Homo sapiens: one gene and its partners. The protein of the gene in region 1 interacts with the protein of each later gene in a pairwise test. Each region holds a gene or a part of one and is shown on either strand. Other genes may lie near its edges.

What was found.
Region 2: the proteins of VSTM1 (region 1) and SLC60A2 interact in binary tests that used the Homo sapiens proteins (3 or more experiments, as listed by UniProt).
Region 3: the proteins of VSTM1 (region 1) and STMN4 interact in binary tests that used the Homo sapiens proteins (3 or more experiments, as listed by UniProt).

Annotation. Positions count from the first base shown.
Region 1 is NC_000019.10:54,046,876-54,053,910, reverse strand, and holds part of VSTM1 (V-set and transmembrane domain-containing protein 1 isoform 1 precursor), read left to right. Parts: intron 1-936; coding exon of another isoform or gene 937-1,012; intron 1,013-2,462; coding exon 2,463-2,501; intron 2,502-5,507; exon of another isoform or gene 5,508-5,596; intron 5,597-7,035.
Region 2 is NC_000006.12:111,276,314-111,280,515, reverse strand, and holds the end of SLC60A2 (sodium-dependent glucose transporter 1), read right to left. Parts: 3' UTR 511-4,202; downstream 1-510. UniProt on the Homo sapiens protein: May function as a sodium-dependent glucose transporter. Potential channels for urea in the inner medulla of kidney.
Region 3 is NC_000008.11:27,241,395-27,248,429, reverse strand, and holds part of STMN4 (stathmin-4), read left to right. Parts: intron 1-3,704; exon of another isoform or gene 3,705-3,840; intron 3,841-4,628; 5' UTR 4,629-4,706; coding exon 4,707-4,719; intron 4,720-5,937; coding exon 5,938-6,033; intron 6,034-6,672; coding exon 6,673-6,753; intron 6,754-7,035. UniProt on the Homo sapiens protein: Exhibits microtubule-destabilizing activity.

The sequences.
Region 1 (7,035 bases):
GCCAACAGGAGCTCACATTCTTCTTTGGAAGAAAGAAAGAAATAAGAGCAAGCTATCAGAGTAATTAAAAAACACATTATAGATGGAGAATAACTGTGAGAGGCATTGTATTAGTGATCTACAGCTGCATAACAAATTACCACTAATTTAGCAGCCTGAAACACCTATTTATTATCTCACAGTTGATGTGGGTCAGGAGTCCAGGCACAGCTTAGCTGAGTCCTCTGCTTTGGGTCTCATAAGGATGCAATCAAGGTGTCAACAAGGGCTGTGTTCTCATCTGGCTCATCTGGAGGCTTGACTGGGGAAGGGTCCATTTCTCCACTCCTGTGGTTGATAGCAATATCTGGTTCTTTATAGCTGTAGGATTCATGCTAGAATGATTCTGCAGCACTTGCAAGAAGAGAGATTGAGAGAGAGAGAAGAAAGAGAGAGCAAATGCCCTAGCAAACAGAGTTTTATGTAATGTAACATAATCAAGAGCATAACATCCCATCACCTTTGCCATAGCTATTGGTGAGAAGAAAGTCACAGATCTCCACACTCAAGGTGAGGGGATTAGACAAAGGCATGAACACCAGGAAGCAGGGCTCCTGAGTCTCCTGAGTGCCCCCTTAGGGTCTATCTGCCACAAGCATGAAGGATGAGAATGACCCAACCACACCGATATCTGGAGAACAGCCCTCCAGGGAGAGAGAGCAGCAAAAGCAAAGTCTCAGAAGTGTGAGTGTTCCTGGAATGATTGAGACACAGAAAGGAGGACATAAGGCAGGGCCTAGAGCATCTAGGATCTTGTGGGTGTTTGAACTGGTCCTAGAGTCTGCTTTGAAAGAACAGGAACCCACTGATGAAGTTGAGCTGGAGGATGGCATGATTTTATTTATATGCTGGAAGGGTCACTGGCTGCTTTTTTTTTTTTTTTTTTTTTTGAGACAGGGTCCCACTCGGTTGCCCAGGCTGGAGTGCAGTGGTGCAATCACAGCTCACTGCAGCCTTGACCTCCCAGGCCCAGGTAATCCTCCCACCTCAGCCTCCCAAGCATCTGAGATTACAGGCACAGGCCATCATGCCCGGCCTCTGGCTGCTTTTGGAAAATAAGGGACTAGATGTAGTAAGAGTTGGTGCGTTTCAGGCAATACGACTTTTTAAATTTAAAAATATCAAATTGACAAATGAAGATTGTATATATTCAAGGTATACAATCTGATGATTTGATCCACCTGTACATTGTGTAATGATTATCACAGTCAAATTAATTAGCACATCCATTGCCACCATGCTGAGCACCTGAACTTCTTCATCTTAGAACTGGAAACTTATACCCTTTCATCAACATCTCCGCATATATCATGCTAAACAAAATAAGCCAGACTCAGAAAGACAAATTCTGCAGGATCTCACTCATATGTGTAGTCTAAAAAAGCCAAACTCACAGAAGCAACTGGTGGTTGCCAGGGACTGGTGAGTAGGTGATATTTCATTTCATTTTTATTTTTATTTTTATTTTTTTTTTGAGACGGAGTCTGGCTCTGTCCCTCAGGCTGGAGTGCAGTGGCGCGATCTCGGCTCACTGCAAGCTCCGCCTCCCGGGTTCACGCCATTCTCCTGCCTCAGCCTCCCGAGTAGCTGGGACTACAGGGGCCCGCCACCACGCTCGGCTAACTTTTTGTATTTTTAGTAGAGACGGGGTTTCACCATGTTAGCCAGGATGGTCTCGATCTCCTGACCTTGTGATCTGCCCGCCTCGGCCTCCCAAAGTGCTGGGATTACAGGCGTGAGCCACTGCGCCCGGCCAAGTAGGTGATATTTTAACTTAGACTAAATGGTGCCACTGTGGAGATAGAAATATAGGCCAGGTGCAGTGGCTCATGCCTGGAATCCCAGTATTCTGAGTGGCCAAGGCAGGTTGATCACTTGAGGCCAGGAGTTTGAGACCAGCCTGGCCAACATGGTGAAACCCTGTCTCTACTAAAAATACAAAAATTAGCAGGGTGTGGTGGCGGGCGCCTGTAGTCCCAGCTACTTGGAAGGCTGAGGCAGGAGAATCTCTTGAACCCGGGAGGCGGAGGTTGCAGTGAGCTGAGATCATGCCACTGCACTCCAGCTTGGGTAACAGTGCAAGACTCAAAAAAAATAAAAGAAAGAAAGAATTTGGGTGAATGGTGTTCTTTGTCAAGATAGAGAAGACTGGCAAGGAATCAAACTGGAGGGGGCGTTAGCAGGGTCATTCATAAATATTTTTGTTATTAAAAATACTATCAAACTCCAGGACTATTAAGAAGAGTAATCTGAGGCTCTGTCCATGCTCTGAGGACCCAGGGAGCATCTAGGGAATGGAGAAGCCATTCTCTTTTCTGCTTCCCAAAGAAGAACAGGATGTCTATAAGTAGGACGTGAGGACTCCTGTCCCCAAGGTTCCTGTATGATTAGTGTAATTCCTTTTCTTCCCTCCTATTTTCTAGATAAACACGATGAACTTGAAGCTCCCTCAATGAAAACAGGTAAGATAATTAGAAAGGAGATGTTTTTCCCAATGAGATCTGCTTCATGATCACCTTTGCTTAAAGTGCACAAGGAGAACTTTATTTATTTGTTTGTTTGTTTGTTTGTTTGTTTTTTGAGATAGAGTCTCGCTTTGTCACCAAGGCTGGAGTACAGTGGCGCAATCTCAGCTCACTGCAACCTTCGCCTCCCGGATTCAAGCAATTTTCCTGCCTCAGCCTCCCGAATAGCTGGGACTACAGGCACGCACCACCACACCCAGCTAATTTTTGTATTTTTAGTAGAGACGGGGTTTCACCATGTTGGCCAGGCTGGTCTCGAACTCCTGACCTTGTGATCTGCCCGCCTCAGCCTCCCAAAGTGCTGGGATTACAGGCGTGAGCCACCGCACACGGCCTATTTATTTTTTTGAGAAAGAGTCTTGTTCTGTCCCCCAGGGTGGCGTGAAGTGGCACAATCTCAGCTCACTGCAACCTCCACTTCCTGGGTTCTGGGTTCAAGCAATTCTCCTGCCTCGGCCTCCCGAATAGCTGGGATTACAGGCACCCACCACCATATCCAGCTCAGTTTTGTTTTTTGTTTTTTGTTTTTAGTAGAGATGGGGTTTCACCATGTTGGCCAGGCTGGTATCAAACTCCTGACCTCAAGCAATTCCCCCGCCTCGGCCTCTCAAAGTGTTGGGATTACAGGCATGAGCCACCGCACCCGGCCTAGAAGAACTTTAAAGCCCATTTTCTCAATGTTATTGGGGAAACTGCTGTGTTTTGGGGGGTGGAGGATGAGGGGAGATAACCTCTAAAGTGCTTCCGGGTTCTGAAGAAGCTGGTGTGTAAAACAGCACAGAGTGCGTTGTTTGCCATATGACATGATGAAAAACTAGGGTGGGATTTGGGGAATAATGGGGGTGAATTTTTCAGTGACCCATTTGGGGAGTAGGACCAGGACCTACGCAGAGTAGGTACTTCAGGAATATATATAATCAAGAGTTTGTTATAACTCTAAAATTCTCAAAAATAGGTGAATATTGAATTTTTTTTCTAATGTTGCTTATTCATTAACAATTGACTAAGATTCTGTCCTCAGAGTTTCTCATAAAAATTAGAGCTTTTGGGCCAGGCGAGGTGGCTCACATCTGTAATCCCAGCACTTTGGGAGGCCGAGGTGGGCGGATCACCTGAGGTCAGGAGTTCGAAACCAGCCTGGGCAACATGGTGAAACCCTGTCTCTACTAAAAATACAAAAATTTGCTGGGCATTGTGGTGGGCGCCTGTATTCCCAGCTACTCAAGTGACTGAGGCAGGAGAATTGCTTGAACCTGGGAGGCAGAGGTTGCAGTGAGCCGAGATTACACCACTGCCCTCCAGCCTGGGCAACAGAGTGAGACTCTGTCTCCAAAAAAAAAAAAAAAAAAAAAAAATTAAAAAGTTAGAGCTTTTGGCAGCATTCGGCTGAAACAGGAACTCATCCAGACTTTAAGGGCCAAATGCAGAATATAAATTGGCATCTAGATGCTTAATCATCCTTCCTTTCAGCAAGTCATAATCTTCCTGCAACCTACTCCAAAGAGCCAAAGTTGCTGAAGGTTGTTGCTAGCAGTCTGTGCTGGTATAATCGGTTTTCAAAAAGGTATCCTCCAAAGTGTTCTTGCAAGATAACTATTTGAAACGTTTTTATTCCATGATAGTAGGCTTGGGAAATGTCTGCTACCCTAGCACTACGAACACAATTCACGTCAGGAACGTTTTCTGAGAAAGATATGAAATCTAATGGGAGAGAGGAACACAGAAGTATCAGAAACGAGGTGGGAGATCTAGTGAGGTGTGAGGGGGAGGAGGAAGAGAAGCTTTTCTATTTTGAGCTCTTGTATCATTTATTTTCTTTCTTTTTTTATTGATATATAATTCACAGTCCAAAAATTCACCCTTGTAAAGTGTCCAATTCACTGGCATTTTGTATCTTCATGAGGTAGTATAACCATCACCACTACATAATTCCAGAACATTCTCATCACCCTAAAAGAAAATCTTGTACCCATTAAGCAGTCACTCCTCATTTCCCACTTTCCCACCAGGCCCTTCCAACCATTCATATGCTTCTCTGTGTCTATGATTTTGTCTATTCTGGACATTTTGTGTAAGTGGATTCATACACTATGTGATCCTTTGTGACTAGCTCCTTTCTCTTTAGCATAATGTTTTCAAAGTTTGTCTGTACTGTAGCATGCATCAATGTTTCATTTCTTGTCATGGTGAAAAGCATCGTATTGTATGGATAGACCACATTTTGCTTATCCATTCTTTTTTTTGTTTTTGTTTTTGTTTTTTTGAGACGGAGTCTTGCTCTGTCGCCCAGGCTGGAGTGCAGTGGCACAATCTCAGCTCACTGCAACCTCCGCCTCCCAGGTTTAAGTGATTCTTTTGCCTTAACCTCCTGAGTAGCTGGACCTACAGGCGCCCGTCACCATGCCTAGCTAATTTGTGTATTTTTAGTAGAGAGGGGGTTTCACCATGTTGGCTAGGCTGGTCTCGAACTCCTGACCTCAGGTGATCCACACGCCTCAGCTTCCCAAAGTGCTGGGATTACAGACTTGAGCTACTGTGCCTGGCCCCGTTCTTCTTTTGATGGACATTTGTGTTGTCTGCACCTCTTGGCTAAAGCGAGTAATGGTGCTGGAACACTGTGGTAGGAGTATCTGTTTGTCTCCGCGCTGTAAATTATCTTGAGTATGTACCTAGAAGTGGATTTGCTAGGACATATGGTGACTATTATGTTCAACTTTTTGAGGAACTGCCAAATCATTTTCCATTGTGGCTGTATCATGTTATATTCCTTCCAGTAATATATGTGGGTTCCAATATCTCCACATCCTTGTCAACACTTACTTTTCTTTTTTTAAATTATAGCCATCCCAGTGGGTATTATATAATTTCTTAAAATGTACTTTTTGAGTTCAAATTTGTATCATCACAATTCTAAACAGAATAAAATATCTTTGCCGGGCGCAGTGGCTCACGTCTGTAATACCAGGACTTTGGGAAGATGAGGCAGGAGGATCACTTGAGCCCAGGGGTTCAAGACCAGCCTGGACAACTTGGTAAGATCCCATCTCTACAAAAAATACAAAAATTAGCCAGGCGTGGTGGTGTGCACCTGTAGTCCCAGCTACTTGGGAGGCTCAGGCAGAAAGATCGTTTGCGCCCAGGAGGTTGAGGCTTCAGTGAACTGTGATTGCGCCACAGCACTCCAGCCTGGGTGACAGAGCGAGACCCTGTTTCAGTAAATAAATAAAATAAAAGTAAAATATCTGTAAGCACAGGTATGATGTCCCCAGCCTGTATTTATATGCCTAAAACACACTAGAAAACGACTCTATGTTCAATCGCAATGTAGAGAATGAAGATGAATTTTATCACACAAGACTTGACTTTCTTTCTGGTGCCTGTGCCTCCATTTATGCCCCGTGTCAGGCTGTATCTTGTTGCTCACGCTGACTTTAGTAGCGTAGCAAGTTATGATTTATTCTGGCAATTTGCAAATACTGATGCAACATTTGGCCAGGATCTGTGGACATCTCAGGGTGAACCCAGTTCAGCTGATTATGGGGTCATATGAAGATGAGAATTTTGCAATAATGTACTTCTCATTTCTAGTGAATTGCTGTGTGAAAGATACCGTAGGCTGGAAAAGGGGAGAACAGAAAGGACAAGGCAAGGCTGCTGTTTCTCTGCTTCCATCTGGGGAAACTGAGAGTCCAGGAGCAGCTGTTCCTGCCCTGTTTTCATAAGTCCTTGGAGATGCACTGATAGAATTGTTGCTTATGGCCAGGCATGGTGGCTTATGTAATCCCAGCACTTTGGGAGGCCAAAGTGGGCAGAACACTTGAGCTCTGGAGTTTGAGACCAGCCTAACCAACATGGTGAAACCTCATCTCTACTAGAAATATAAAAAATTAGCGGGGTGAGGTGGCGGGTGCTTGTAATCCCAGCTCCTTGGGAGGCTGAGGCAGGAGAATTGCTTGAACCCCAGAGGGGGAGGTTCCAAAGCCGAGATTGTACCACTGCACTCCAGCCTGGGAGACAGAGTGAGACTGTCTCAAAAAAAAAAAAATTGTTGCTTTTGAGGGGTTCTCTGATTCAGCTCCACCAGAAGCAGGCTCTTAGACAGCATTAGTGTGAAAGTGACGTTTTATTTTATTTATTATTTATTTAGTTTTGAGACAGAGTTTCGCTCTTGTTGCCCAGGCTGGAGTGCAATGGCGTGATCTTGGCTCACTGCAACCTCCGCCTACCAGGTTCAAGAGATTCTCCTGCCTCAGCCTCCCAAATAGCTGGGATTACAGGCATGCACCACCACACCCAGCTAATATTCTATTTTTAGTAGAGACGGGGTTTCTCCATGTTGGTCAGGCTGGTCTCGAACTCCTGACCTCAGGTGCTCTGCCTGCCTCGACCTCCCAAAGTGCTGGGATTACAGGTGTGAGCCACCACGCCTGGCTTGAAAATTACATTTTAGGGAGTGGGGAAGAAGGGCTGG
Region 2 (4,202 bases), on another chromosome or scaffold:
ATCCTATCATCTGCAGCAACACGGATGAAACTGAAGGACACTATGTTAAGGGAGTTATTTCACTTAACAGAAAGACAAATATTCCATGTTCTCACTTAGATGTGGGAGCTAAAAAATTAATCTCATGGAGGTAGTGAGTAGAATAATAATTACCAGAGGCTGGGAAGGGTAGGGGACAGAGCAGAGGGCAGCAGGTTGGTTAGCAAATACAAAAATACAGTTAGACAGAAGGAATAAGTTCTAGTGTTTGATAGCACAGTAGAGTGACTACAGTTAACACTAGTTTATTGTATATTTCAAAATAGCTACAGGAGAAGATGTGAAATGTTCCCAACACAAAGAAATGATAAACATTTGAGGTGATGGATATCCCAACTACCCTGATTTGCTCATTACACACTGTATGCATGTATCGAATTATCACAGGGAACCCATAATTATGCATAGCTATTATGTATCAATTCAAAAATCAGTGAAACAACTGAAACATGAATCTTAAACCAACATCACTATTGTTATCAATATTTTATTCAAACAAGTTTTTATATGGTACAAAGCTATGTAAACAGTGAGTAGTCTATTTTTTTTGTTTGAGATGGAGTCTCACTCATGCAGTGGTGTGATCATGGCTCACTGCAGTGTTGAACTCCTCGGCTCAAGGTATCCTCCCGCCTTGGCCTCCCAAAGCACTGAGATTACAGGTGTGAGCCACCACGCCCAGCCTAGGTGAGTAGTCTTAAATTCAGATGTAATAAACCTGCAAGATCATTCCTACTCTGTTAAGCCCCCCAAATCAAAATTGACTGGTGAAAACCTGCCTAGAAGGGCAACCTCCAAAAGATCTGAGCTTTTGTTTTAGGAAGGACTTCAAATAACAGCAATATTTCCTGCACTGGACCAAGCAGCAGTGGAGTGAATAGAAAACATGAGATCTCTTCCTCTCCAGTTTTCCTTTAAGAAAGTGCACAGGCTAGGCGCGGTGGCTCATGCCTGTAATCTCAGCACTTTGGGAGGCCGAGGTGGGCGGATCACGAGGTCAAGAGATCAAGACCATCCTGGCTAACGTGGTGAAACCCCGTCTCTACTAGAAATACAAAAAATTAGCTGGGCACAGTGGTGGGCGCCTGTAGTCCCAGCTACTCAGGAGAATGGCGTGAACCCGGGAGGTGAAGTTTGCAGTGAGCTGAGATAGCGCCACTGCACTCCAGCCTGGGCAATAGAGCGAGACTCTGTCTCAAAAAAAAAAAAAAGAAAGAAAGAAAGTGCACAGAATTTCAAGGATCTACAAAAGTGGCATAACTTAATCAATCTGTAAGTAAGCCTAAGAAAAAACCACGGTCATTAGTAGAGGATCCAGTTTTGTGCACTGATCAAAGCAGTGGTTCTCAATCTTGGCTGCACATTACAATTACGGGGGATTGGGGAGGAGGAGTTACTTTTTTAAATATCCATACTCAGGCTCCACTCCAGACCAAATTGGTATTTAAGTTAAAATGCTGGGCATCAGTCATTTTTAAACACTGCCAGGTGATTCTAACAGCAGCCAGGTTTGAAAACCACTGGAGCAAAGGTTAATCACTTGGGCAGAGGACAAGAACACATTTTGCAATCACGTTTTTCCCTTGGGTCCTCTTTCCTTCTGGAGCTTATGAATTCTGGAGGGTGTAGAAGCAAAATGTCACTTTCCCTTGCTTCAGTAAGACTAAGAACTTCCTATATCATTCTATTAGTCTGTTTTCATGCTGTTGATAAAGACAGACCTGAGATTAGGTAATTTACAAAAGAGGTTTATTGGACTTACAGTTCCACATGGCTGGGGAGGCTTCACAATCATGGCGGAAGGCAAGGAGCAGCAAATCACATCTTATATAGATGGCAGCAGGCAAAATGAGGGCTTGTGCAGGAAAACTCCCTCTTATAATAACCAAAAGATCTCGTGAGACTTCCTCACTATCACAAGAACAGCACGGGAAAGACTTGCCCCCATGATTTAGTTACCTCCCACCAGGTCCCTCCAACAACACATGGGAATTCAAGATGAGATTTGGGTGGGGACACAGCCAAACTATATCAATCACCATCAGAAAAGAAAGACGTTGCACCCTGAGACAAAACAAAAATGATAGGGTCATCTAACTGTTGATGATCTAAAAAACAATAAAACCTTGAATGTTTCCCATAAACCTGGACTCCCTAAGAAATTTTATCCTTGGTTTTTCCTGTACTACATCTGAAGATTTGCCATAACCTTTATGAATACAATAATTACATGAGGCAGTTACTGTTTTTCACCGTGAACAGTCTAATGCAAACTCAGAAACCTTGGCAGTTTTTAATTTTTTCCTTCAAATACTTACGTTTTTTATTAGGCAAGCCAGTCATTCTCTTGCTCTCTTTGCAGGTAAACTTTTCCTTTTCTAAATGCTTCTGTCTCTGAGTATTTCTTCAACAAGGGTAAAGATTCATAGAGTGCTTGGACACAGAACTGGATACTCTGCTCCTGGGGGCAGAGTTCACTGCAAGTGATAAGGGAAAGAGCTGAGAAATGAGAACCTGCTCTGTCAGCCCAAGGGTCTTTGGAGCTGTAATCCAAGATCTAGTTTGACCATAAATATATTCTCTTGGCTGGACTGAATAAATCTCAAAAGTTGGTGTCAGATTCCTTTGTTGTAGGCTTCCTAAGCCTTCTTGCCTATATTCACCTCAACTACACTGTGCCGAGTAATTTCTACAAAATTCTAAATCAAAAATTACCCCAAAGACATAGACAAGTACTAGAAATGAACAAACAAAAACACACACCAAGGAACCAAGAGTTTAGCTACTTTCCTTTTCTAAAACTGGGTAAAACCTATTACAATAAGAGTTACTGGCTCTTCCGCTGATAGAAATTTTGTCATGGCAAATTTTACTTAAAATAGAAAAACATAAGCTTGGTGAAGGCAAGGATCTCATCTGCCTTCTCCTATTATATTCCCAGGGCCCTGGTTACTGAACATGGTAAATGCTCAGTAAATATCTGTTAGATAACTGAAATGCATGAATTTGGAAAACTTTCTGGTCCGCACAGATGAGAACTGTAATAATATCTCTTGCAAACTGGGACTCCTCTTAGAGCTCACTCAAGTAGAAATCTTACCCTCTTAGGAGAAAGCTTTCTTTCTTGGTAAAAATCAAACAATCCACAAACCTTGTCTAACACGCTCTTCCAAAAAAGTCTGCAATTTGGTGTGATTTTGTTTTTCCAGTTCTGATGCAGATGAACCAGGCCATCCATCCCAGGACCTGCCAATTTTCATCCCATTCAGGTATCGATTACCAATATTTATGAAGCCTAGCACTTCTCTGGTACAGAGCAGACAGTGGACATTCCCTTTTGATGATAACAGCTCCTGCATGCAGAGTGGTGGGAGTAGGAGGGTAGAAGTAGCCACTTTCTGGATGGGAGCAATGTCATCAACCCAAAGGGAACCCCTTCATAGGCTAACCAGCAACTCCTGAGGCAAGGCCCAATAAGGGCAATGGCATCTACTCAAGTCAAACAGGTTTCCTCCGGAATCTGGACCAGAGATACACAGAGGAACTCCTGAGGCAAGGCCCAATAAGGGCAATGGCATCTATTCAAGTCAAACAGGTTTCCTCTGGAATCTGGACCAGAGATATATAGAAGATGGGCCAGGAATGCAGAAAACGAGTGGTCCCAAGGAGGGGCAGAACTGCTGTGAGAGAGGCAGAGAGCAGCCCATTTATCGTTCTCAGACCACACACCTTCTGGTTCCAAGGTGGTTCAGAGGGATCTCTGTAAACGAATGAGCACAAAACACAGAACCATTCATTTGGCAGAAAACTGAGATCAAAGCTGTACCTGCTACTGCAAGGACAAAAAAGAAAGTTCATTAATACTTAGTCTACAGAGCCTCACATGCAGTAAGCCCTCAAGCACTTGTGCAATGACTGAACAAAAATTGCAAGCAGAGATAACAAAACTTTGAGGTAGTTGCCCAACATAACTTTTCTTTGAGTTCACTTATTCAGTACATGGGTGCTACTGATATGATCATAATGCGCCTAAAGTCTGAGATAATACCTTAAAAGTATGTGTTTATTCTCTTCCTAAAGCTACTCTCTTCTGGAAAAACTTGATTAAGAAAAAAATCTAAGACAAAAAACACAAACACAACAAAATATTAAAAATAGAATTA
Region 3 (7,035 bases), on another chromosome or scaffold:
CCTCCTGTGTTCCTGAGTAAACCCAGTCCACATCCCTGGCACACAGTCAGGTTCACAGTCATTGCAAGGTGATAGGCACTGCAGAACCTCAATTGCATAGTAACCTCATCACAGTCTGGGATGAGGCCACACTCGAATCTTTGCCATCTGAAGATCTAGCAGAGGGCTTGGCACAGAATTATATACTAAATAAATAAATAAATAAATAAATAGAGTCCTCTCTCTACCTGCTCCACTGGATCAATCCCTGCCAGCACAGGGGCTCAGCTGCCCAGGGAGGCCTTGGCTCTTGACCAACCAGTTTGTGTCCATCAGAAGTGCTTGACAGTGACCACCAGGCAGGAGCTGGAGGGCCTGCCATCCTGAGCTCTAGCTCTGGTTCTGGATATTGGCTGAATGACTGCCACATTGACCTTCTGTCTGGGGCTCCTTTGATCTTTGTTGCTGCTGGATGCAATGAATTTCCTGGTCTTCCTTAGGGGCAATAGAAGGGCTAGGATTGGCTCTCACCTAACAGAAAACACATAAGGAACCTCTGAGGGATGGGGATGGAGGTTTGCTTCTGCACTGGGTTTTGCCTTCCATTGCTCTGCTGGCTGACGTCTTGGATAGAATCTCCCATTGAGGATTTGCACTCCTTGCCTCATGCTTCCTATGGCCTCTATTGTCTCTTCATCTTCATCATGCCACCTGAATCCCTGGCACTCTGTGTGCTCTGACCTTGGGCATAACACCTTTACTGTCCTTCTTTGACAGTTCCAGGAGAGGTTTGGTGGCCCTCGCTCCCTTGCAGGCTGTATATTGCTGTGGCATGATAACATGACCATGGCCATTTAACAAACCCCACAAGACAACCTAGCATCACACAACCAGGCCAGGTGCTGGGGAGGGACATGTGACTGGCCCCACTGGGCGCAGATGCCACAGGTTATTAGGGATAAAGTTGGGTTTCCTGCCATGGCTGGCGCCACCCAGTGGCAAAGACTCCTTTCATCTCTGTGCCCTCTGCTTCCCACCTTTTTATCTTCTGTGTCCTTTCTCAGAATGTCCCCTGGGCATATCTTTTGGGTCTTGAGTGCAAAAGAAATGATGTGACTGTTGGCATGAGGATTTATAAGGGCCCTATGGACCCACAGGCACAAGTAAATAGATCATCTTTTTTTTTTTTTTTTTTTGAGACAAAGTCTCACTCTCTCACCCAGGCTGGAGTTCAGTGGCGCGATCTCGGCTCACTGCAACCTTCGCCTGCCAGGCTCAAGTGATTCTCCTACCTCAGCTTCCCTAGTAGCTGAGATTACAGGCATGCGCCACCATGCCGGGCTAATTTTTGTATTTTTAGTAGAGATGGGGTTTCACCATGTTGGCCAGGCTGGTCTCAAACTCCTGACCTCAAAGTGATCTGCCCACCTCAGCCTCCCAAAGTGCTGGGATTACAGCATGAGGCACCACGCCTGGCCACATAGATCATTTTGAGGAATAAATCAGCCCATGTATGAATGCTGGTACCTGAGGTGAAAAAAACCATGGGTTTGAGCCCTGGCTTTGTCACTTCCTGAGGACATTAGTTTCCCCGGGGCTACTGCATCACTTTACCACTAACCGGGAGGCTGGAAGTTCAAAGCTGAGATGTCAGTGGACTGAACTCTGCTGAAGACTCCAGGGGAGGATCTGTCCTTGTCTCTTGCAGGTTCTGGCGGCCCCAAAGGTTCCTTGGCTTGTGGCTGCCTTACTCCCATCTCTGCCTCCGTCTGCACATGGCCTTTTCTCTCAGTCTCTCTTATAAGGACACTTGCCATTGGGTTTAAGGCTTTCTCAGGCAAGCAGGAATGTCTCTTCTTGAGATCCTTCATTAAGCCCTTCTTTCCAAATAAGCTCATATTCACAGGTTGTAGGAGTTAGGATGAGCATGTATGCATGTAGGGGACATTATTTAACCTACTGTACTGAATGGCCTTGAAAAGGCACTTAGCTTCCCTGAGCCTCGATTTCATTCTCTATAAAATGGGGATAGTAATTCCTGCCTTACGAGGCTATTACGAAAATTAAAGTGAGTTTGTCACATAGCAGCTGCTCAGTAAGCACACATTTTTAACACTGAGAGGTCTCCATTGCAAATCCCTTGATCATGACCATGCATACCTCTGCCCACCTCTACAACATCTCGTTTCTTGCCCTGGTTTTCCTTTTCTGGCTTTCTGACCTTCTCTGTGTTCCTAAAACTCCTAGCCCATTTCCTTCCATGTAGAAAGCACTTACCACATATTTTAAAGTTAACTCATATCCCCAGGCCAGGCTGGCTTTCTGTGAGTCCTCAGGACCATAGAGAAAGCATTAGTGAGTATCTAGTTCTTCCACTGGTTACAATGGAAGAGCTTACAAGTCGAGAGACCTGGAGACTAGACCCAGCTCTGCACCCTTAGAGCTGTGTGACCTTAAGCAAGCGTCTGAACTTCTCCAAACCCCAGGTTCTTCATCTGAAAGCAAAGCTGATGATGCCTGTCTTGTCAGCCTAAGCCAGCTTCATGCAAAGTTAGACTAGGATAATGTGGTGGGTGTCGAGTGCCCCCTGAGCACAGGGTCCTATCATCATTTCTAGCTCGGGCTGGAGGCACATTCCATAACTCCAACTGCCTGCTCCTACTCCATCTGCCTTCTTTCTCAGGCATCCCTCTCTGCCTCCCCTCCACCTATTCAGGCTTCCACTTCTGATCCTTTCCCCAGGTAGAAGTCCAAGGCCACTGCCACTCTGGCAAGGGCTTACTAACTCTGCCAGTGACTTGTCAGTCAGCCTGGCCATGAGCAGAGACTGCGGGATGGGGTGTCATGACCAGGGAAGTCGCATGCAGGCACCAGGCCTGCCTCTCTGTTCAGGGACTCACTGGTGCCGTCAGGACCAGCTTAGTTCTGCAGAGAGAAGACCCATTGTGCTGCAATGACAGGGGCCTCTGGCTCCAAAGCACAACAACAAGAACAAGGAGAACAAAGCAGTTTAAGTCCAGCTGGACCTCGGTTCAAATGGGCACTCTAACTTGCTAGCTGCATTGCCCTGAGCAGGCACATAAACCCTCTGAGCCTCAGTTTCCCCATCCGCACATGGCAACAACAGTCCTTACTTGTGGGTCCAGAGGTAATGGCTCTGAAGCAGGCATGTGGCACCTGATAGCTGTCCTGATGCAAAAGACAGGGCAAAGAGACTAACATTTATTCAGTGCTTCCTGTCTGCTGGATGCTATGCATGGGTTTTTCTCATTTAATTTGTACAGCTCTGTGCAGGATTAAGATGGAGAAAGAGACTAGCGAGAGCTGGTAAGAGAGGTGATACTTGTATTTGACCCCACACTGGTCTAGCCCTAAAGCCAGAGCTGAGTTCACTGCCCCATTACCTCCTCCTGCCAGTCTCCAGCCAGCACAGAAAGGCAAGGGGTTTGAAGTGGGTCTCAGAGTCTCTTTGGCTGGCAAGGATGTAGGCAGTGAGCCTGCTGGCTCTCGCCACCCTCCCCTGGCACAGTGACCACAGAGGGTGACCGAGGATCAAATGGTCCTGAGGATGGCCACTCACTGCTGGCTGCTCCTCACTCTCTTTGTAGTAGCCTTCATGGGCTCCCATCACCTCCACCCCTCTGATCCTCCCAGATCTGCTCCTTCCCTGACTCTCCTGTTTTGTCTCCTGCCCCGCCCCCTCCTCTTTCCACTTTCTGATCTAGCGTCAACTAGCTTGACCTGATCCCACGGACACTGAGTGGCGTTCTCACCCCGACCCTTGGCCGTGATGTTCCCTTGCACAATGCCCTCCTGCCAGCTCCTGTCTGATTCTAACTCATCCTTCAAGGCACTGCTCAGGTGCTACCGACACCAGGGACACCTCCCAGGCTCCCTGGCAAATGCTGGGGGTGTGGAGCCCTATTTCTGTGTCCCACAGCAATTCCTCATGCTGATTTCTGGTGGTGTGGAGCCCTATCTCTGTGTCCCACAGCAATTCCTCACGCTGATTTCTGGTGGTGTGCTGGCTGGCCCTGTGATGACGACATGATTCCTTAATGTTTTTCTTTCCTGTGTCCCGGATTGTCTTAAATAGGGTCAAACACAGCTTAGGTCAGTCGTCTTGGGAAAGGGAAGGTGAGAGGCATCTGAAGAGGCCTGTTAACATCCTATGTCCAATTCCCTCTCTTCCCATATCAGAATTGGCCCAAAGACTTCTGGGGCATGTGCGGGGAGAAGTCCAGGACACACAGTTATTTTATGAATGCCTCCCAGCTGATTCTGCAGGAGGATTTGCTTCTCACCCTAACCCTTGAATTGGGCCAGGTTCTTGAGCTATGGAGGGAGACAGATGAGCACCCCTTGATCCATACGTTTTTGGGAAACCCACGCTTGCATGTGCTAGGGGGCTTGAGACTGGAAAGCCAATTATGAAGTATCATTAGTTCATGGAATCTGAGCTTGTTTAGCATCATTGTGGGAGGGAGGTCGGGGTAGGGGACCCCCAGGGAGAGTTGGTGGGGAGAGGGCCTGGAGGAAGAGCAAATGAGGTACCCCTGAGATTCCCTCCCCAGTGTATAAAGACCTTTCTTATGAGAATAACCTGTCTAATCCATCGATGGTAAAATCCTGTCCTCCCCTTTTCTCAGGTTGGTGACAGCGTCCCAAGCTGGTGACAGACCCACTCTGTAACTTTCAGCTAGATTCAGCCACCAGATCCCAGAAACATGACCCTTGCTGGTAGGTACAAAAACCATGTGTTAAGGGGCGTAGGCTATTCCCCCTGCCCTCACCCAACATGGACTCACAGAAGCAGGGAAGAACACAGCTGGCAGGAAGCACACGGGGTGTGTGGGGGGGTGCAGGTAGTGATGGGAGGCTTGGGGGCATGCAGGCAGTGGCGGGAGGCACACCACTGCCTGTCACCACAGGCGACAAGTTGAACAAGTGGTGGGGGGTGTGTCACAGCTGAGATTTTCTTCCTTTTGCTCATCTGTATATGTGTGTTTTTTTTTAAGTTTTTATGATGCCTATATATTATTTTTGCAGTTACACGTATTTTCAAATCTGTAAAAGGAAGCCAGGTATAGTGGCATATGCCTATAGTCCCCAGTATCAGGAGTCTGAGGCACAAGGATCGCTTGAGCCCAGGAGTTTGAGTCCAGCCTGGGCAACATATTGAGACCCTCATCTCAACAAAAAATTGTACAAGCAAATGAGGATGGGGGCAACACCTGCGCTGTGCTAGGGGTCAGCTAAGGGCTGCAACCTGAGCAGCCAGACACACGGGCCCCAAGGCGGTGAGGAGAGGGACTTTCAGGAGCCAGGACAGCTCTGGCCCCTGACATCCCAAACACAGATAGACTAGAGGGTGGCGGGGATATGCTCCAGCTTTTGGGGACACCAGCGACCCCCAGGCTCTGTGCACTGTGTTGGAAAGGTCAGAGAAGGCTTATAGCCTGACCTTGTGAGGGGCAGACCAGAGGGATGGTGGTGAGGACGGTCCCCTCCTATCCAGCTCCTTAACCCTGCAGGCCAGCGCTGCCAGGTATTTGGAGTAGAATGGAGTGTGGGTCTCCTGTGTCCTGGAGAAAAAGAATCGGAATGTCCTGGGGCAGATGTTGGGGGATGGAGAGCTGAGGCACTGGTGCTTGGGACCTTTCCATGAGGGCATTTTGCTTTCTGGTCTGGAAGGGGAGGAGACATACTGTGGAGAAGGATCTGATGCTCTGGAAGGCTTAGGTTTCCACAGGAGACAGGAGTGGGTTCGAATCCCACACAGGGATCCTGAACAGCACGGCTCAGGGCGAAAGGCCTGGATCCCCAGGCTTGGCGTGTGCCTGCGTGGTTTGAGTGCCTTTATGGAACCCTGGGCTGCTCAGAGCCCCAGACCCGTGAGGACGCTGACTTCTGAGGCTAGGAGAGGCGCCATCCTCACCTGACTGGGTGTTTCCGCAGCCTACAAAGAGAAGATGAAGGAGCTCCCGCTGGTGTCCTTGTTCTGCTCCTGCTTCCTGGCCGATCCCCTGAATAAGTCGTCCTACAAATATGAAGGTCAGTGAAGGCTCAGCCAGGAAAGTGAGGGGCGGGGGGGCCCTGTGTCCTGTCCTCATAGGTCCTGCACCCCGACCCCAGTCCCGTGAATCTCTCCTCCCGAGACAGTTTCCTTCCCAGTGCCGATGAAATCACAGCGGGTGAGCCCGAGGGTCTGAGCTGCAGTGGTCCAGCCTGGGCACTAGGGGGAGGCCATGAAGGTCTGCATCAGGCGCCCCCCAGAGTGCACTCGATCTTGTCACCTCTGTGCATGCATCCAGCAAATCGAGACTGGGGGGTATGCAAAGGTGAGCCAGACAGATATTCTACCTGTGGGGAACATCTAGACCAGAAGAGAAGATGAGACGATGTGAGTCAGTTTCCAGGTCAACAGGTCTCCTCTGGGAAGGGTAGAGAATGCTCTGGGAGAGTCCAGAGGTGGGAAGAGGAGGTTCTGTGGCAGCCATGCTGTGTGGGGCCTGTAGCCGGGACAGCCCCAAGACACCAGCAGGGAGCACTGGGTGGCCACGTCCTCACCAGGGGTGCTCGGGGACCAGGTCACCTCCTAATGTCCTGGTTAGAAGCAGAGATGGGTTTGGTTTGGTCTGGCACCAAGGAACAGGCATGCTCGGATGACCTGAGGTTGTTTTTTCTGTCTAGGCTGGTGTGGGAGACAGTGTAGGAGGAAGGATGAAAGCCAGCGGAAAGACAGTGCTGACTGGAGAGAAAGAAGAGCTCAGGGTAGGAGGGAGGCAGCGGAGGGATTCCGCAGGCCGAGCGTCAGATGGGCTGTGGCCGGGGGTGGGCGGGGGCTGAAACGCACCCCTGCCTGTCACCACGGACGACAAATTGAGCAGCTCAGCAGTCAGAGGAGGCTGGTGGGGGAAGCAAAGGCAAAAGCAGCCAGTGTCGTAGGAAATCACATTGCCTGGGGCCCCCTATTCTTGCAGGCTGAAGCCTCACTGTTGCTACAAACTCCTTCAGCCCCGTCAGAGGCCATTGCCCTTAGGTACTAGGGTGTAG